Regions from separate parts of the Homo sapiens genome. Here region 2 is linked to region 1. Evidence: fine-mapped expression QTL. A gene starts in region 1. The other region holds a variant in brackets. All regions are shown on one strand. Distances are from middle to middle. Region 1 holds the start of PDE1B (phosphodiesterase 1B). Region 2 holds the start of NCKAP1L (NCK associated protein 1 like).

Region 1 (10,642 bases):
TTTATTTAACAGCATTTATTGAGTGCCTGTTATGTTCAAGGTATCACACTAGACTCTGATGAAACAAAGATAAGCAAAAATAATCCCCAGTGGGGTCCCTGCTCCAGCTCATCTATAATGACCTTGAACCACAGCATAGAACATTGAGCCTAGACTTTGAGGGTCCCGAGTGCGTACCATGTGGGGAAAGAAAAAGAGAAAGGGACTATGTCTATACTGTCCCAAAGGAAGGGGGAAGTTCCATCTGTAAAATGTAAAATTCCAAGAGAAACTGGAGCAGAGAAAAGAGAGTGGTGTTTGTACCATCCTGGGAAAAAGAGAACTCATATTTATGCTTTTCCTATGTATATAACCCCCCTAAAGAAAAAATGAGGCAGAAACCCAGAGTGGTAGAATTTCATCACTTGGGTGGGTGTAGCAAAACAGGGAATACAGAGCCCCCTGCCTCTCTACACCACTTGATGGAGTTGAAGCAGGTTACAAGCTCTGTAGGAAGAGGGACTATGTCTGTTTTGTCCACCACCGACTGTATTCTCAGCATCCAGCATGCCACCTGGTCCATAGAAGGCACTCAAGAAATAGTTGTTGGATAAATAAATGAGCTGAGGATGGCAAACCAATGTCTGCTCATCGTTTTTCTTGAATCACAAAAGACACAGAAAATCATTTCTATCTCTTCTGGTCTTCTTCCCATTCCCTAAAGCCCTCTGATCTCAGAGAAGGGTGGACAGCCAAGTCAAATACTTCCTCTTAGGGTTACAGATGCTGAAAATCATCCTGGCCAACTCATCATCTCCAGATGGCCTCTTTCACCCTCTCTCATGCCTCAGTTTATGAGTTTGCTTAATTAGAGAAATTGTTCTGAAAATAGGGGTAAAATCACACAGTTAAGAGATTCTCTTCAGCTCATATGATACAGATTAGATTCTGAATTTATTTTTGACAGGGTCTTAGTGTGGGAAACAGAATTCTTGGATGCTCTTCCCAACAAAAAATTGCCCTGCACTATTATATTAGTGTGGGCTTTTTATCCAGAGTCAAAAACACCAGGCCTAGTCTCCCTGAAGAAAGTCTGGATGTCCTGATTAGAAATTAAAAGGGTAGAAGGGGGGGAATAGGATGTGTTGAGTAGAAGAATCTAGATAGATAGTTAGATAAATACATACAAGTATATATGCCATGTTTCCATTTCCAAGCAGTACCCAGTCCTAAGATAATCATGTCTATTTCCTATTTCCAGACTTAGCAACCCCTTCCCACCTTGACCAAAGGGGCAGGGGGATCTTTATTTCCACTTAAAAGGGGGAACATCTCCTTTCTCACCTATTCAGAAACCATCCCATTGAGAGGGTTGGGAAACTCCCACCTCTTACCCAGCAAAGCCCTAAATCCTTTTATTTCCCTTCATCTGATAGTCAAAGCCTCCCCAATATTCAAAAAGGCAAAATCCAGTAGGCCATCAACATAGATCAAGTTGGGATCTACCTTGATTTCAAGGTCTTTCTCTGCTTTAAGGACGTAAGACTGGGAATCTATTCCTGCCAATTAATAATCCGGAGATTGTACTTTTTTGGGTAAGTTATATTACATGTAGCTAGCTTTATTTTTTACTTGTAAATTTATTGTACAAAGCTAGCATTCTTAAGGACCAGACTGCTGAAGTGAGTGAAGACCAGAATGATCTAATCAATAAGAATAGGGATCCTTGTCCACCCTAATCTCATGTAAGGACATCTCAGCTAAGGCACTCTGGAGAGACAGATGCCTCTACTCCCTTCTCTTCCCAGGTTTCATGCCTCCTTCTGGGAATCCTCTTCTCTCACCACTGAGCACTTCTCACACTAAAGGAAGAAACAACAATTCATTTTCAGGAAAGGCTTTTGGTTAGAAATGTGTGGGAGATAGTGAAACTAGTAATACCCACTCTTTCGCAGGGCCCTGTTACCTGGAATACAGGCAAGGTAAGTATGATGAGCCACTAGTGTTAGGGGAGCCATCCTGAATTCTCCCATTTATGGACCTGGGGCCCTTCTTTACCTTTCAACTACTTCCTTATCTGCCCCTTTCCCCAGCTCATTTACCATTAACGCAGCGTCATTTTCTATCAAGAATCACACAGTGCTCCTCCCAACAAAAATCAGTTCAATCTGGTTTTCCATTTCTTCATCCCAGAACTCATTCCAAGGCTGTGCTTCATAGAGCCCAGCAAATTGGATTGGCCAGAGGCAGCCAAGGAGGAGGACTGAGAAGTACATTTGGATTCCAAGCCTTGTTGCCCACTATGCCTCAGTTCTCCCTAACGCCTCTCCAAGTAGCTAGTGTATAAATCAGACCCATCTGCCATAAAAAGGTGTCATCTTATCACCATAGGTGAAGTATTTAAAGAACAATACAACATAAGCATCTATCCATCCCCTACCCCCATCTCTCCCTCTCCCAGAACCCAGAAATAGAAAGCTTCGGTGCTCACTATGGAGAACATTGAGGAGGAACTGGGTTCAGGGCTATGTTTACTGTGTTTCCTCTCTAAACATCCATAGTCTCCTATCTGTTTCCTCTTTCCTGGGGCCATGGATTCATCTCGGAGAGAGGGACATCTTCTCTTGTTCCCTGATTAAGAATCAACAGACTGCGGAGATTTCCCAATGGCAGCAGCTGACTGGGAGATAAACATGGTGCATGGCTTGTCTTTGACCCAATCCTCTTTTTTTTCTAAGGAGCAGGGGAAAAGTTCCTTTCCTCCCCTGGGACTGGAGTATCAGATACCTGAGTTCTTCCTTCCCCCATTTATTCCTCCCCACATGCCCTGGTACTGCAACAATAGGAAAAGATGCCCAAATGTGCTTGGAGATCCTGGAAGACCCTATATAAACAAAAAGCCTCTGATTAAGCCAGTTACCTTGCCTTTGTCAATCAATATTTCTTCACCATCATCACCTCCTTCAGCTTCCAGGTGGGGGCTCCAACCCCCCCTCCAGATTCCACGTGGGTCCCCTCATCATTAATACATAGAGTGAGTTTCCAGGCCCCAAGAGATGAGCAGCTCAGGCATGGGGTAACCCCCACCCCACTTCCTGTGCATGAGGCAGAAACTACCAATCCCAACTGAGATACATATGACCCACAGGTTGGCACAAGTATTCCCATGCAGTAGATCTACAGCTGTGTGCAATCACTCCACATACCTCTGTGACCCACGCTCACTCATGCACACACATGTCATGTGGCTCACATCTGCACAACTCTGCACATGGATATGTGTGAGTCAGCCTGGCACCTCTACTGCCCTCCTGCAGCCCTGCCACACTGCATATACTGTGCTGCCTCTAGGCGCTGCGTGTGTCAGCCTGGGGTCCACAGGCACAGGCACATCGTTACCTTTGCAACTCCTAAGCCCGCTCCAACTGGCCAGCTTGCTCCGCACATGCCTTGCACATGTGGCCTGGCCACGCGTGTCAGGGCCGTGCTTCCTCGCACCTGCCAACATCTGTGCCAAAGAGAATCTACCAGCCCACAGCCCTGCTCCAGTTATCCCCCCTCCTCCTCCCGCTCAGGCTCCCTAAGGTCCCTTCCCCCCATTCCCGGGCCGGGGACTTACAGAGACCGAAGCTTAATCCACATCTTCTTGCTGGGGGCTGACTTCAGCTCCAGGGGTGACGGGCAATCCGACTCCTCCAGCATCTCCGGAGGACTGCGGGGGGACAGCTCCATGCTCAGCCACGGTCTACGGAACAGAAGGAGGAGACAGCACCTCGGCTCAGCTTCAGCCCCAGCCGAGAGACCCTCACCCCCCATCCCAGGCCCTTCCCACCTGCGGCTGGCGTGGACCAGCCAGGCCGGTGTCTCTAGGCTCGGCCCAAGCTGGCAGAGCTGCAGCTCCTGCGGCTCCTCCTCTCCCGCTGCCCAGCCGAGCTTTGGGCTCCCAGTCCAAGCTCTCCGCACCGCCGCTGCTGCTGCCGCTACCGCCGCCGCCGCCGCGCGCTGCCAGAGCCGCCTCCTCGCCTCTCTCCTCCTCCCCCGGCCGGGTTCCCCCCTCCCTCTGCTCTCCCTCCCTTCTCCTCAGCCTGCCCGCCAGTCTCTCACTCCTCACAGCCACTCCTCCCCCTCCCAAAGGAACGATTGGAAGCCGGGGGCACACACAGACAGAAGCGCCCAAGGGCGAGCGCACGCACACAGGCGCCGGGGACGAGTGGCTGCGTGTGCCCTGTACTGGCGGATGTGAGTGCGTGTTTACAGAGTGCAGCGGAGGCGGCGGGCTGGACTTCGGTGTGGGTGGTTGTGTGGGTTCTCTCCGTGTGTTTTGAGTTTCTGTGTATGTGGTTGTGGTTCCATGTATCCACGTGTGCCTAGCTGCCTGCGTGTCCCATGTCTGAGTGCGGGGTAGGGGATGAGCACACATCTTTCCCTGCTAGATCTGGACTCGGAACCCAGTCGGACCAGACCCCACCTGTGCTCCTGTCTTGGAAAAGTTCAGGGTGTGCCCTGAGCTGTGATGGCATCCCACACTTGGCCTCGGGTCCCTCAGCTTGATCTTCCCCACCTGTCTCCAAGACTGTGGCCTTCTCCATGGTACTTCTGCCTGCCCGCCTAGCAGATAGGAATTTCTTCCAAGTTCAAAGCTCTCCAGAGCAGGCATCTTTTTTTTTTTTTTTTTTTTTTTTTTTTTTTTTGAGAAGGAGTCTGTGTCGCCCAGGCTGCAGTGCAGTGGCGCGATCTCGGCTCACTGCAACCTCTGCCTCCCCAGTTCCAGCGATTCTCCTGCCTCAGCCTCCTGGAGTAGCTGGGACTACAGGCGCGGGCCACCACGCCGGCTAATTTTTGTATTTTTTAGTAGAGATGGGGTTTCACTATATTGGCCAGGCTGGTCTCCAACTCCTGACCTCGTGATCCGCCCACGTCGGCCTCCCAAAGTGGTGGGATTACAGGTGTGAGCCACCGCACCCAGCTTAACATCTTCTTCTTTGACTAGGTAATAACTCTACACAGCCAGGAAAGCATTCCTGATATCAAAACCCCTCCTGAAGCACTTCCAGCTCATTTTTTCTGTTCTGTCTTCAGAGAAAGAAATCTAGGAGCTAAAGGCCCAGCACAAAACAGCCTAGCTGGTTAATAAACATTTGTGGAAGGAGTGAACTGGAATTTGAACTCAAGACCTTGTAAAAGGGCAAAGCCTCCTCCATCCAACCGAGTCCTACCTAGGACTCTTGCAGGAACCACCTCTCTTGCTCCATATTGTTCTCTCCCTTAATGACCACCTGCTTTGGCATTGGGGAAACTCCTATGTCAACAGAAAGTGGAGATATATTCACTAACTACTGAATCCAAAACAGGCCACTAATCCAGGATCCCAGAATGTGAATTTTAATTTCAAAAAATTCTGGAGGTTGGAAGGAGGAGTGATCAGGAGAAGGTATTTACTCTGTTCTAAATACTGAGTGGAGGCTCCTCCTCTCCCAGTCAGAGAAGGAGAAAAGAAGTGAAATGGAAGGGCGAAGAAGCGGATGAACTGTCACAGCTAAGACTCCTAACATAAAAGAATTGCCAAGTTAGGTCAGCATTTAGATTCAGCAGAAGTATCAGCAGAACCAGCTCCCAGAAAGTACAGAGGCAGAAAGAGATGGCAGAGTCAGAGATGGAGAAAAAAGTGGAAATAATAAGGGACTTCCCACCCTCTGTCCATCTACCTTTAGCACACATCCCTTGGCTTTTCCCCAGACCCAGCCAAGAAATGGCTGCATCTGAGACCCTAGTCACACTCCTACACAGTCCATTTCTGAAAATTTGGGAGCAATCTCCTCCTTATCAACTGAAAATGAAATGGGCTGGAAACTACAAAAGAATTGCAAATTAGGATGGTGCTAAAGAGCTCTAATTAGTAAATTAGGATTAGAGCTAAGGAGTTTCCAAATTTAGGCAGGTCTTTAAACTAGAATAGGTGGGAAAGAGGCAAGACATACATCCAGAGGGCTCTCTCAACATTTCTTGTTAACACAGTGTCACATCCTGCTCTCCCAAGACCCCCTGCTCCTGATTCATTTTAAGGCTAATTCACACACACACACACACACACACACACACACGCACACACACACAAAGTTATTCGTGAAAGAGACATTAGAGTTCATCCACTCTAATTCCCTTCATTTAATAAATGGGAAAACTTCATAGACAACACAGTTTGATGGAAAAAGTAAAAATAAAAATAAATGAGAACTAAACTAACCCAGAAAAATTATAGGGTCTCACAGAGAGTAAGTGATAAAACCAGAGCCAAGTCTATCAGCCTTTTTCACTCTGTGGCTCCTTTCACTTTCTTTAGTCACCAGTCCTGGTGTTTAGTCTCAACCTCATTCCTCTTGTTGCAATACAATCCCATTTCTACCTTGCTGCGTCTCTAAACAGATAAGAATTGGGTATACTTGTTCCACTCTGAGGCTCAAAAGACAACTATTCTCTCCCTGTCTTTTCCTCTTGTCCTCATCCCCCACCTTTCCCAGGCTCCTTCTCATTCCTCTCCTTTTCAGCTTCTAAACTGCCCCCTACCCCTAGGAGGCTCTGCCTCCTCACTCCCCTAACCCCACAATCCTTTCCAACAAGCTTTGAGTTTGATAGAAACCAAAAATGATGCTTTGGCAGTAGGTGACGGATGGATGTGATCTGCCTCCTACGGGAATGCTATTTAAAGGGGCAGCCTCACAATCCTCTCCTTCCAAAGTGACAAGAGAAAAGTCTGCTCCTCAATCTCTCCAGAGCTGCAAACTCAGCTCAAGTTAACTTCTGACTTCCTCAACCTGCAACCTGGCCTGCTGCTCCTGCTTCCTATTCAAGTGGGAGGGAGAGTACTTGACAACTCATTGAGGTGTGGGGGCTGAAGGGGGATTCATCTTCATCTCCTTTGATGACAGGTACTTAGGAGAAGCAGGAGGCCCTGTGGGGAGGAGGACTGGAAGAACACTCTTCCCCCAACCGCGTGAGTGCATTTCAGCCATGTGCCAGCTTCTTCTCAAAGTCAAACTTTGTTGGAGAAGAACTAATATAAGCATGAGGACCTAAGGTTAAGGAAGCCTTGTCCCTAGCTGGGGGACACAGATATACCCTCCCTCCCTCCTGGATCCTGGTATTCACAGCACAGTTGTTCCCTTCCTGCAAAGCAAAGTGCTACAGGGCATCATCCCCTTGGCCAGGCCCTGGACCTTCTGCATTTTTTTTTTTTTTTTTTTTTGTGAGACAGGATCTTGCTCTGTCACCCAGACTGGAGTGCAATGGCATCATCTTCGCTCACTGCAACCTCTGCCTCCCGGACTCAAGCGATCCTCCCCACCTCAGCCTTCCAAGTAGCTAGGACTACAGGCAGGAACTACTACGCCCAGCTAATTTTCGTATTTTTTTGTAGAGACGGAGTTCGCCATGTTGACCAGGCTGGTCTTAACCTCCTTAGCTCAAGAGATCCACTGGCCTCAGCCTCCCAAAGTGTTGGGATTACAGACAACAGCCACCATGCCCAGCTAATTTTTTGTATTTTTGGAGAGACAGGGTTTCACTGTGTTGCCCAGAGTGGTCTCAAACTCCTGAGTTCAAGCGATCCGCCTGCCTCCCAAAGTGCTGGGATTACAGGGGTGAGCCACCACACCCAGTTCCTTCTGCACTTTGAAGCTGGCCCACCTGCCAACTGGATTGAACACCATGGCAGGGGAGGCAGTGTTTCTACTGTCCAAACAAAAGGGGGCACCTATGCAAGTATCTTGCCCCAGGCCTTGTGGGAGGCATAATTCCATCTCATTGCTGCAAGCAAGTTAATGGAGATGTTAATAAAAACACTACATTAATGAAAATGCTGAGGCTAGAACCTATTCTGTGCCTGTAAGACAAAACAATTGGGGTGAGATTTCTGATATCCATTCTTTAGTTCCTTTGGGCCTAAGTAAAGCAAACTTACAACCTGGGACACAACTTATTTTTTCCCAGGTTGTAAGAGGACAGAGACCCTCCTGGTAAAGGAAGCAAATTGCCTGAAATGCTGATGGGTCCTGTTACTTCTCTGTCCCTTCACCTCTGGACATTCACTTTTTGCTTCCGGTAGTAAAGGCCATCATGTCCTCACCTTCTCCAATTTGCTCCTTCTAAGGTCTCTGGATTCTAAAACCCAAGTCTTCCCTTGTGAAGAGGCAGACCGGGCAAGTAGAAAAGGTCTAGGACTGAACATCAGACTTGGGTCCCAGTTCTAGTTCTACTGCTAAACATGTGACCTTCATTAAGTCATTTAATATTTCTAAATCTGTTTTCTGACCTGAAATAGGAAAGCCTTCCCTGGCTACCTTGCAGAATTGCTATAAGGATGTGAAAGCACTTTGAAAAAGTATAAGTGGTAGAGAAATATGTGTGTATAATTATATGTTTACAAAAAGATATATCAAATGACAAAATTTTAGAAATAGAGAATATATCTGTGTTACCAGGAGCTAGAGATGGGGAAGGGGGTTGTGGGAGGAGAAAATTGCTATAAAATTGCTATAAAAGAGCAATGCGAGGGATCCTTGTGGTGATGGAACTGTTCTGTATCTTTTTTTAAATTATTATTTATTTTTTGAGACAGAGTCTCGCTCTGTCACTCAGCCTGGAATGCTGTGGCAGGATCTTAGCTTACTGCAACCTCCGCCTCCCGGGATCAAGTTATTCTGCTGCCTCAGCCTCCTGAGTAGTGGGACTACAGGCATGCACCACCACGCCCGGCTAGTTTTGGTATTTTTAGTAGAGACGGTGTTTCACTATATTGGCCAGGCTGCTCTCAAACCCCTGACCTCAGGTGATCCACCTGCCTTGGCCTCCCAAAGTGCTGGGATTACAGGCGTGAGCCACTGCGCCCGGCCTGTTCTGTATGTTGACTGCAGTGGCAGATACACAAACCTACACATGATAAAGCTGTATAGAAATAGATAACACACACACGTGCACACACAGAGAGAAATGAACATAAGCAAAACTGGGGAAGGAAATCTGAACAAGATCAGTAGATTATATCAATGTCAGTTATCCTGGTTGTGGCAGTGTACTACAGTTTTGCTAGATGTTAGCATTCAGGGAAACTGTGTAAAGGAAAATAGAATTTCTCTGTATGATTTCTTACAAGTGCAGGTGGATTAAGTATCTCAATAAAATTTTCAGTTTTAAAAAAAGGCATTCTGTCTACCCTCCATCCCCCTGCAGCAACTTGTCTTGCTGTCCTCTTAAGCAGTTCTATATGCAGATGCAGATGGAGGAGGGATCTCTATCCCCTCAAGCAGAAAAATATAAACATATAGAGTAGTTGTTCAGATACTTCTGAGCCTCCTCTTCCTCATCAACTTTACTCTCAGTCTCATAAGCCTGACACTGAATCACCCTTTAGAACATAAGCCCTTCCCATAGCAAGGAAGGAGGATTTGCTGATGCACGAAGCAGGATTCTCTATCGCTTCCACCCTAAAGAGCAGACAACTGTTGCTAAGAAAAATCTGTATGTTGATTATGGGTGCCAAGTTAAGAAAGTATTGACTAAGCCTGGGTCTCAAGAAATAAAAAGCAAACACATGTACAAAACCCCAAAACAGCTATCAAATAGGCTTCAGGAAGGCTGAATCGTTTTTGCTGAAAACCGACAACTGCTTCCCTTTCATCATGAAAGTATGGACATGACCCTAATTAACCAACTAGCTAATTATATTTGTCAATTCCAACCACTCTAGACCTGTGACATATATGATCTGTTTCTCCACTTCTCCCTGGCAGTGGATTCACAGAAGTGATGCATGGGGGCCACTATTTCCTGCCAAGGAGTTAAGTAAACCTAGTTTAGTGCTATCTTGAAAGCCCCCAGGCTCTGTGACGCTTGAAATTCTAATTAGCGCAGAAAAGGGCTAAGTTGAAACAGCTTGTACTCCCTCAAGGATACCCACTCTCAGGGCCATACAACCTAATGAGGTCTGTGAAATTTAAGATCCAGAAGAGAAATCCCTTCCTGGAGCAACAGCTATACCCAGGCTGACAAAAGGATTTGGGGTTAAATTAGTCCCTCCCAATAAAAGGCAGAGTACCCCCAAATGGTACAGGAGGGAAAACCCACCTAAGTCTGGGCCAATCAGTTGTCATGTAACCTAGAATTGACGGAGACTAACTGACCCTCTGCTCTGGGTTGTGGAGATATCAAAGCAGGAGGGGTTAAAGCAAGAGAGAACTTGTAACAAACAATGTAGTAGAGTAGGTGGGCAGTGAACATCTCTGAAGGGCACTTCCTCCTTGCCCCAGTAGGAAACGCAGTCAAGCTGGGGGCAAAGGAAGAGACCCAATGACCCCTCGAAGAGCCCCACAAAGGAAAAGAGGGGCTCCTTTGCTGCTACTCTGCAGTAGGAGCAGGTTGAATGTTTGCTGAACACATTTGAAAAAGGAAGAGAGAAGATAATGGTCCTAATGAATGTGCAGGAGACAATAGCAGCTCCAGTGGGAGGATTATAAGCTCATTATGATTTAATATGATGATTGATCATCTCTGCCCGCCAGCATTATCCTAAGAATAGTGATGAAGGTCGGAGAGGCCCATGCCTGTCAGAGCTCAAGCTCAAGTCACCAGAAGATAGAAAATATACTTGTACGTTACTCCTTTTTTCATT
Region 2 (10,642 bases), 53 kb after region 1:
CTCAAGAAGAACAGTGGTTATACCTAAAACATTCTTAAAGAGGGTTGAGGCCGGGCGCAGTGGCTCACACCTGTAATCCCAGCACTTTGGGAGGCCGAGGCAGGCGGATCACCTGAGGTCAGGGGTTCAAGACCAGCCTGGCCAACCTGGTGAAACCCCGTCTCTATTAAAAATACAAAAATTAGCTGGGCGTGGTGGCGGGCGCCTGTAATGCCAGCTACTCGAGAGGCTGAGTCAGAAGAATCACTTGAACCTGGGAAGCAGAGGTTGCAGTGAGCCAAGATTGTGCTACTGCACTCCAGCCTGGGTGACAGAGCAAGACTCCATCTCAAAAAAAAAAAAAAAGAAAAGAAAAGAAAAAGAAAGAGAGTTGAAATATACTGACAGAGGAAGTTAGAAACGCTTCAGTGCTCTGAAGGTCTTTAAACAAAGGAGATTGTCTATCTAGGTAGAATGGTTGCATGTGATCCTGACTAGATACAGAGGGCTAAATGAGAGGAAATTTTAAGCACCCTTTCAGATGAACAGATATACTATTTATATCAAAGTCAAAAGAAACAGAATTCAAAGATGCTACAAAGATGGGTGAAAAATCTAGGGTTAACATTTAATAAGGGAAAAGTAGAGATATCCCATTAGATGCAGAAATCTAAGACAAACAGCAAGGAAACAGTGAGTGGGAAACAGAAACAATAAAATACATGTACCCTGCTGGGTTGATAGAGCTGTCTTGTACAAAAACAATGTTTTCCCATGAATCTTGCAATGGAAAAGGGGTGATGATTCGCTCCAGCTTATGCTGGAAGAATCCCATCTTATCTCAAAATGCTCAAGACTTAAAGCTCTACAACAACCTGAAGCCCTGTGGTTGAGCCTTGGAAAACTATTAATAAAAAAAGACTACTCCATCCCCTGCCAAGTTTGAAGAGAGGCATCAAAAGAGGAGAATTTCAGCCATTCAAGCAGAGAATTATTCAGAGAAAGGAGAGAAGGACCAAGTTCTCACCGTGCTGTTTCGGACATCTATGTTGGGAAATTTCTTGTTGATATACTTGAGAGATGGTTCCATGGACTTTTCCAGTAAGAAAGGTGGCTTAGATTTGGGGTCTGAACAAGTCTGCAGAGAGAAACCATATATATTTCAACCCTTTCTCCTCCTCCTCAGAAACATACCTCTTCTTGCAACATTCATTCTCATAATCTGTCTTAGGAAAAGGCAACCTGGGAACTAATTTAAAAAGCATGAGAGGCTGGGCGCAGCGGCTCACACCTGTAATCCCAGCACTTCGGGAGGCCGAGGCAGGCAGATCACAAGGTCAGAAGTTCGAGACCAGCCTGGCCAACATGGTGAAACCCCGTCTCTACTAAAAATACAAAAATTAGCTGGGCATGGTGGTGCACAACTGTAGTCCCAGGTACTTGGGAGGCTGAGGCAGGAGAATCGCTTGAACCCGGGAGGCGGAGGTTGCAGTGAGCCAAGATCGTGCCACTGCACTCCAGCCTGGGCGACAGAGCGAGACTCCGAAAATAAATAAATAAATAAATAAATAAATAAATATAAAAATAAAAAGCATAAGAGTAGGTCAAGAAAAAATTCCAAGACATTAAGCCAAGTATCTAAGAGCGAAATAACAACCTAGGCATTTTGTCTTGATGGGTAGAGTTTAATGCCTGCTTGGCCCCAGCACAAAGAGGAAGCTGTTTCCCCGCCCCTCAACTGAAGCCGGAAGGAACAAGAAAAGCAGCTGCTCAGGAGTTAGACTTTGTACAAGATTCAGTGTCACAATTTTGTTCACTATGTAAGTATCTTATCCCAAAGGGCATTTACAGGATTCATGGTGACAGAGAAACCGTGTTCCTGGTGATTTGTTTTATTACAAAAAACACAAAAGCTCCCTCCCCCAAAGTCCCCTATTTTCTATGCCAGGAACTCCCCATAAACACCCCTGTCTTTATCTCTTTACTTCCTATGGTTTGCCCAGCCCCTAGCCCACCTCTTGTCACTAGCTTCTTTCAATTCCTCAGTTCCTATTCTAAACACACACACACACACACACACACACACACACACAACCACCACAGCATGAACTACCCCAGGAGCAGCTCAGAAGACACCTACCCTTTTTAATCTAAATACCTAATTATCTATTTTTTTTCCTTTTAGGGAAGCACTTCCACAGAAAAGTTTTTGCCAGAGACCCAGCTTCAGATCTCTTCAGAGTGTAGAGGATCAACAATAAATAATAAAACCCAGAAGGTTGGACCCCAGACCTTTATCCAAGTCACTTGGAATACCACTGTTGTTTCCCCATCCCCACCCTCACCCCCATCCCCAGAGGAAAGCAGATGCCATCGTTGGGGCAAGAATCATATCTAGAAAGGGGAAGCCTTGAAAAGAAGCCTCCACTTCTGCCTTCCTGAACTGGCTGGCCTGTATAATCTGAGTGATTATGTAGATTATAGTCAGTGGAAAAGCAGTGGAAAAAAAGGTGGGAGTCTAACTGCTGCACCTGCCGCCTCAGGGTTCCCTGCCCTATTATTGTTGGAATAATCAGTACTAGTCCCATTGTTCATGCTTACCTTCTTGATGTTATACATACGGATGAGAACCCCCTGACCGCGATCATTCAGGATAGTGAGCTTCTCTGCTAATTTATGCTGGTAAGCAGATGTCAAAGACATGATGGCCACTGAGAGAGGAGCACCAGACAGCAATGTCTGATCTCCCCAAACACTTTCAGCTTAGATGGTGACACCCTCTGGCGGAGGGACCCAGCCTGGTTGGTGCACTGGTCTTCTGTTGCCTCTGCAATTGGCTCATGGGTGAAATCAGTCATTATGGCTCACAGGCCCTCAGAGCCTTCTTGTGCTTCCTCTTGCACACTCAGCAGGGGAGACTTCCTCTTTCTGGCTGTGCAGCACTTTTGGTAAGGCTATGAAGTGGGTGGAGCTGAGGAGAAGGACAGGCTTTCAAGGCTCTTCACAGACTGCACCAACCTTTTTGGTCTTATGCCCCCATAAGTGTCCTAGACAAAGCTGGGCGTGGTGGCTCACACCTGTAATCCCAGCACTTTGGGAGGAAAAGGTGGGAAGATCCATTGAGCTCAGGAGTTCCAGACCAGCCTGGGCAACATAGCAAGACCCCATCTCTATAAAAAATAAAAATTAAAAGCTGTAAGCTAGATAAACAAGTATCTACCACCCCACCCCTGTACACCTCTATATTTTCCTTCTTTTATATCCAAGAATGCCTATGAACCTTTGGCCTCATCATGTTTTAGTACCCAGATCAAATCCCATCTTCTCCTAAAGACCCCATCAATGTCAAATATTATATTGTATTATATTTTATATTGTCAAATACATATATTCCTTGTTATATGTTTATAGTGTACGTTGTATCTCCCCCAACTACAGCATAAGCTCCTTAATGACAGGAATTGTACCTAATACTTTTTTTTCTTTTTTTTTTTTTTTTTGAAACAGAGTTCCACTCTTGTTGCCCAGGCTGGAGTGCAATGGCATGATCTCTGCTCACTACAACCTCCACCTCCTGGGCTCAAGCAATTCTCCAGCCTCAGCCTCTGGAGTAGCTGTGGTTACAGGTGCCCACCACCACGCCTTGCTAATTTTTGTATTTTTAGTAGACATGGGGTTTCACCGTGTTGGCCAGGCTGCTCTCGAACTCCTGACCTCAGGTGATTTACCCGCCACAGCCTCCCAAAGTACTGGAATTACAGGCATGAGCCACCACACCCGGCCTCTAATACTTTTTTATATTTCTCACAATGCTCTACTACAGTGCATTGTACTTCTACAGTACATAATAATTCTCAAAGTAGTTCTCAAGAAGTACATAGTAATTCTCAAAATGTGATCCAGCAGCATCAGCATCACCTGGAAACTTGTTAGAGATGCAAATTCTTAGGACCCGCCCCAGACCACTGAATCCAAAATTCTGGGGTGGGTCCAGGCACTCTGTGTTTTAACAAACCCTCCAGGTGATTCCAATGCACACTCAAGTTTGAGAACCAGTGCTCTAGTACCATGGTATTTATGGATGCTTGAGAAACAGATCAATCCCTGTCCTCTGAGATTAGCATTGGTAGGTAGGCGAGTCTGTTGTGGGGCCTAGAAGTCTGTACTTATATAAGCACTGTTGTAGGAGGTTTTGGTACAAATATTCCATTCTGAAAAACACTGATCTAGAACAATACCTCTTGGACACAGTAGTCACTCAATAAATATGCTGGTTTATTTGTTGAATTATTAAGACTAAATTAGGAAATAGGCCCCATGAAGAAGAACCAAATTAATCAAGATTAAAAAGAGGAAATTAGTAATCACCCTTAAATCTTAGAGACTTGAATGAATTTTAGCATTAAAATATTCTTGCCATTCCAATGAGGCCTTAACTCCGTAACTCAAGAAAATTTTCAACTCTATTTCAACTTTCTTTCAAGACACAAAGCAAAAGGTCCTAGGAAAAATTATAAATCAAAAAGAGTTCTCTTCATTTCCACCACCTTGCCAATTCCTTTTCTCAGGTTTTTAATCATTCCCATTTTCCGTATCCAGAGTTCCCATTGTCCCAATAAATTCTAGGGAGTGGGAGAAGAGAGACAAGGCTGATCAGCATTATTACTTAAGAAGTTGGGGCCAGGTGAAGTGGCTCATGCTTATAATCCCAGCACTTTGGGAGGCAAAGGTAGAAGGATTGCTTGAAGCCAGGAGTTCAAGACCAGCCTAGGCAACATTGTGAGACCTTCCCCCACCCCTCTACAGATAAAATAAAATAAATTAGCCTGGTGTGGTGGTACATGGCTGTAGGCCCAGCTCCTCAGGAGGCTGAGGTGGGATGGTCGCTTGAGCCCAGGAGTTCAACACCGCACTCCAGCCTGGTCGATAGAGCAAGACTATGTCTCTAAATAAATAAATAAATAAATAAATAAATAAATAAAGGCAAGAAAGAAAAAAAAACTTGAGTACTGTGTTCACTATTTGGGCATGGGTGATGGGTTCATTAGAAGCCCAAATCTCAGCATCACACAATATACCCATGTAACAAACCTGCATGTGTATCCCCTGAATCTAAATGTTTTTTAATTTTAAAAAGAAACTTAACATCCATGCTCCAAAGAGAATGTATTTTTAAAAGAAGCAGCAAGATGGCAACACTTAACGCATGAAATTTCAAATATCTCTAAGGTAGAATTTGCATTTTAGGAATATAGA[A/C]TCTGCCTTCCATTTTATTTACTAGACTGGGTCCCTAGAAAGCTATGGGCTCGAGGTAATGTGATATTGGTCATGAAGATTTGAATTACCTGCTGTTATCAAAGAAACCCAGGTTTTACTAAAGCAATTTGTAGGATTTCTACTGGTCTTTTACCTTTACCAAGGAGAATATGGAGCAGACAGTAAGAGGCCAACATCCAGGAAGCTTAGCAGCAGCATAGCACCGGTCTTCGTGGGGTTAGTGTAATTCTAGCGGCTCTTTCTTGCATTCCTTTTTTTTTTTTTTTTTTTTTTCCTGAGACAAGCTCTCGCTCTGTTGCCCAGGCTTGAGTGCAGTAGTGCTATCATGGCTCACTGCAACCTTGACCTCCCAGGCTCAAGAGATCCTCTCACTTCAGCCTCCTGAGTAGCTGGGACTTCAGGTGCAGGCCACCACGTCTGGCTAATTTTTGTATTTTTTGTGAGCCACCTCACTTGAATTTCTTGTCTTTATCCTGAAAGTGTGGTTGAAGACTCTGCATCCCAAGCTAATCTTGTTTCCTGCTCCTTAATGGATACTCCCCAACTTGGTGGGGACCATCTTCTCAGCCTGCTGTGAATGTGCTATGTTCATGTCTGCCTCTCTGACTTCACTTACGCATGCTTTCCTTCTTGCTTACCCAAATCCTAGTCAATCTTCAGGATCTAGCTCAATAGTCCCAAGTCTAGGTTTTGCCGAACTCCCACAACACTTGGTCTATACCACATACTTTACATCTAAATCAGGTTCTGTCCTTAACTGCCCATTTCATATAATACTGCCTAGCCAGCTGAACCAAAAGATTGTTGAAACCTGGAAACACTTATTCCCCTGTACTTGGTATATGCGAAAAGCCTACCTGCTGTTATCAGACAGAATTTGGCTCAAGTGTAGTTGAGTACAGTGGGCTGAGCCTTATGATTTAGTGACCGAGAGCCCAGGTTCTGGAACCAGATATCTTGAGTTCACATCCTATTTATCCTGTCTGTAAAATAAAGATGATATTGATAATACTTCCTATTTCACGGAGCTATTGTGCATATTTTAAAAGTTATAGCCTAGTTACTTACTCTGTACATGTAAAGCATTTGAAGTACTATAAGCACTCAAGCTTACATGTATTACCTCAATTAATATTAATAATGCTAAACACTTACTAGCTTTGTAACTTTAGCTATCTATCACCATTGAGTTGTTTCCTAATCTATAAAATGGTGGTAATCCCTCATACGACTGTGGAACTGATGAAATAATATGGCATATGTAAACATTTGGTTCAAGACCTGCTACATTGGATTAGGAATGTCAACAGTAAAGTAAAATTTTGATCTTTGAGTGTGTAGTGAGCTTGTTATGTCACTTTCTGTGGATTCTATTTGACACTCATAAAGAAAAACTCTAGGTTTAAAAATGGAACTAGGCCAGACGCAGTGGCTCACATCTATAACCCCAGCACTTTGGGAGGCTGAGGCAGGCAGATGGCTTGAGCCCAGGAGTTCAAGACCAACCTGGGAAACATGGTGAATCTCCATCCCTACAAAAAATACAAAAATTAGCCGGGAGTGGTGGCACACACCTGTAGTCCCAGCTATTCAGGAGGCTGTGGCAGGAGGATTGTTTGAGCCCAGAAGGTTGAGGCTACAGTGAGCTGTGATTGCACCATTGCACTCCAGCCTGAGAGACAAAGCAAAACCCTGTCTCAAAAAAAATTTTCTGGGCTGAGTGTGGTGGCTCACACCTGTAATCCCAGCACTTTGGGAGGCCAAGGCAGGCAGATCACCTGAGGTCAGGAGTTTGAGACCAGCCTGGCCAAAATGGAGAAACCCCATCTCTACTAAAAATACAAAATTAGCCGGGCGTGGTGTCGGGCACCTGTAATCCCAGCTACTCAGGAGGCTGAGGCAGGAGAATCACTTGAACCCAGGAGATGGAGGTTGCAGTGAGCCGAGATCAAGCCATTGCCACTCCAGGCTGGGTGACAAGGGCAAGACTCCGTCTCAAAAAAAAAAAAAAATTTTGCCAGGCACGGTGGCTCACGCCTATAATCCCAGCACTTTGGGAGGCCAAGGTGGGCGGATTACCTGAGGTCAGGAGTTCAAGACCAGCTGGCTAACATGGAGAAACCCCATTTCTACTAAAAATACAAAAAAATAGCCAGGCTTGGTGGTGCACGCCTGTAATCCCAGCTACTCGGGAGGCTGAGGCAGGAGAATCGCTTGAACCCGGGAGGCAGAGGTTGCAGTGAGCCGAAATCATGCCATTGCACCCCAGCTTGGGCAACAAGAGCAAAACTCCATCTCAAAAAAATTAATGTAACTAACTATGCCAACTGGTAGTTTTTAGAGAAACTTATTGGAAAGATCATTCAGCAGTTTCTCCCATAAACTGGAGGAACCCTTCTAAAGGTATTTAATTACTCCCAAAGTATGGCCTGGTAGACCTAGAATCCCCTGTAGAAGTCTTTCTTTTTTTTTTTTTTTAATAGAGACAGGGTCTTGCTCTGATGCTCAGGATGGAGTACAACTGTGTGTCATGATAGCTCACTGCAGCTTTGAACTCCTGGGCTCAAGTGATCCTCCTGCCTCAGCCTCCCATGTAGCTTGGACTACAGGCACACGCCACCACACCAGGATAATTTTTTAAATTTTTTTATAGAGATGGGGGTCTTACTATGTTACCCAGGCTGGTCTTAAAATTCTGGCCTCAAGCAATCTGTCTGCCTCAGCCTCCCAAAGTGCTAGAATTATAGGTGTGAGCCACTGTGCCAGACCTGTGGAACTCTTTTAAAGCCACAATTAGCCAGAGCCCATTCTTGAAGATTCTGATCCAGTAGTTTTGGAGTGGGACCAAAGGACCTGTCACTTTAAAACTACTCAGTGATTCTCATGAACAATCAGGATTGAGAGCCAGTTCTCTAAGACTTAACTATGACATCAAAAATTTCCGAACCTCTGAGAAATCATAGAACATATGGTGGGAAAAGAGGAATTGAGTAGCTTGAATGGAAAGTTGATTCACATCACCAGACTAAAAGGTACTGTGCTTTCCCTCTCCTCAAACTTCAGCTATTTGTCTTATTTTTGTCTTACCAAAGGATCGTCTTCGCCTTCAAGTCACACTTGCCTTCAGATTCTTGACAGACACTCCTTCAAGAATAAGGTAGGTCTCAAGATCCTTTAGGCTAGGTTTAAGTGTCAAGGTGGCATCAAGGTTGGGAATGCTTTGGCCATGTCTAACATATATCAAAGGAAATGGTCTTAGCCTCCATTCAGCTATCCATAATCAGGTGAATAACCCAGCGTCACCAATTCTCGCCACCTATTCTAAAGCAGTCTTCATTTATTAAGACCAGGCTTATCAGTCTGGTCAAACTTCATACTTTTCTAGGCTGCTGGCCAAAATGAGGGTTTGGGGTTGTCTGAAGACTACATTTGGGTTATTGAAGATCTTTTTCCATTATCTTTAAAAATCTAAAGATAACAGTATACAACATTGAATTATGCTGCAGCCTTTATTTTCCAGAGAGCCAATTCACTTTATAATAAGGGTTCATGGCTCTAATATAATCATTAATATGCAGTGAAAGCTTTAAACAACTACCCTGACTTGTATTCCTGAAAGGTACCTGAGTCTAAATCCCTGGATTTAGTCACCAAAATGCCCTCAGGAAAATCTGACATTTAATAGTCTAGCTCTGTGCCCTTTATCTATGCCCTAGGCATGATGCAAAGCAGAATTGAAATGGACTATTCTAAGGCACTTTTCTATCCCTACTGCTTATTCCAGTCTGCCTTGATCTTATTTTTCCTCCATCAAACTATACTGTCCATGCTTTGCAGAAATCTCGGTGTAGCTGTTGCCTGGAAACTTGAGAGTCCTTAATATGAACGTCTGCTAGGATAGCTAAAGACAGCTAGCCATGGAAGAAAGTAGGCCTTATATTGGCAGTAAAATGTAGCAGATCTGAGATGGTATATTCTTGAATCACTTCTAGGAGTCTTCATATGTTAATACCTACAACTTTAGAAATTTGAGACTGACATTCTCAGGTAACTATAAAGTAGCCCAAGATTGGCATGTTGGCATGTACCTGTAGTCCCAGCCACTCAGGAGGCTGAGGTAGAAGGATTGCTTGAGCCCAGAAGTTTGAGGCTGTCATGTGCTATGATCACACCTGTGAAGAGCCACTGCACTCCAGCCTCGGCAACATCAAGGCCCCATCTCTAAAAAATAATTATTATAATTATAAAGTAGCCTGAACTTAAGCATTGTACTGTTCATACTTCAGATTCCTTTTCTCCAACAGTGGCTATGCTGACCTATCTGACAATTAGCATCTTTCCCTGGCAAAGAGCTTAATTTAGGTAAGTTGGAAAAGGGATGGAGGGACCAATGCTGAATAGTAAAGGAACCAGCTGTCCCAGCCTTTCTTTCTCCAGCACTCAAGCTTACAGTATGAAATTTCACTGGCTGGGCGCTGTGGCTCATGCCTGTAATCCCAACACTTTGGGAGGCCAAGGCAGGCAGATCACCTGAGGTCGGGAGTTCAAGACCAGCGTGACTAATATGGAGAAACTCCGTCTCTAATAAAAATTTAAAATTAGCCAGGCTTGGCACATGCCTGTAATCCCAGCTACTCGGGAGGCTGAGGTAGGAGAATAGCTTCAACCCGGGAGGCAGAGGTTGTGGTGAGCCGAGATCACGCCATTGCACTCCAGCCTGGCCAACAAGAGTGAAACTGTCTTAAAAAAAAAAATTCATCTTACTCCAGACTGAGTTTTCCAAGGACCTTTGCCTGTTTAATACTTTATTTGAGAGACAAGCACTCTATCTAACACAACTTATAAGACTAAAAATATATACAAACGTTAATTTTTTGCATGGAAGCAGTGAATTTCCCCTACTGTCTAACTGGCTAGGCTATTGCTTTGGTTACTCGAAACTTTCATAGGTAAGACTTGAGATACTCCTATCTTTCATATTACTTTTGTTTTGACAATATAAAATAGGTCTATGCCAAGACTACCTGATCTTAAATGTCATTCTTTTTATTTGACAACCTGTGGTTCCTACCATTTAGTCCTCATGGAGCCAGAAGCCTTAGAAATGTGTCCTTATGACCCAAACCACAGGAGGCCAGCCAGCAGATTACAGTACCACCTGTCATGCAGAAGAGTAAGTTTTCCTGATAAGAACTGTAAGCCACTAGAGGGAGAAAATAACCTCAGAAATAAAAAGTTAACGTTTTTAAAAAAAAAAATTAGGCTGTGTGCAGTGGGTCACACTGTAATCCAAGCACCTTGGAAGGCCAAGGTGGGAGGATTGCTTGAGACCAGGAGTTTAAGACCAGCCTGGACAACATGGCAAGACCTCATCTCTAAAAATAAA

Evidence for each region.
Region 2: its variant is fine-mapped to the expression of PDE1B in whole blood (TOPMed, PIP above 0.99).

What each region holds. Positions count from the first base shown.
Region 1 is chr12:54,542,942-54,553,583 of GRCh38, reverse strand. It overlaps PDE1B (phosphodiesterase 1B), which reads right to left and starts at 3,983. Exons shown (of 16, transcript NM_000924.4): 1 at 3,812-3,983; 2 at 3,599-3,724. The coding sequence starts at 3,711. It overlaps NCKAP1L (NCK associated protein 1 like), which reads right to left. Exons shown (of 31, transcript NM_005337.5): 31 at 5,341-10,642. RefSeq lists enhancers at 2,805-3,433, 6,581-7,125 and a silencer at 3,999-4,058.
Region 2 is chr12:54,489,830-54,500,471 of GRCh38, reverse strand. NCKAP1L (NCK associated protein 1 like) reads right to left here and starts at 2,720. Exons shown (of 31, transcript NM_005337.5): 1 at 2,581-2,720; 2 at 1,007-1,117. The coding sequence starts at 2,682. RefSeq lists enhancers at 2,529-2,588, 2,699-2,758. The variant A/C (reference allele first, on the strand shown) is at 5,236.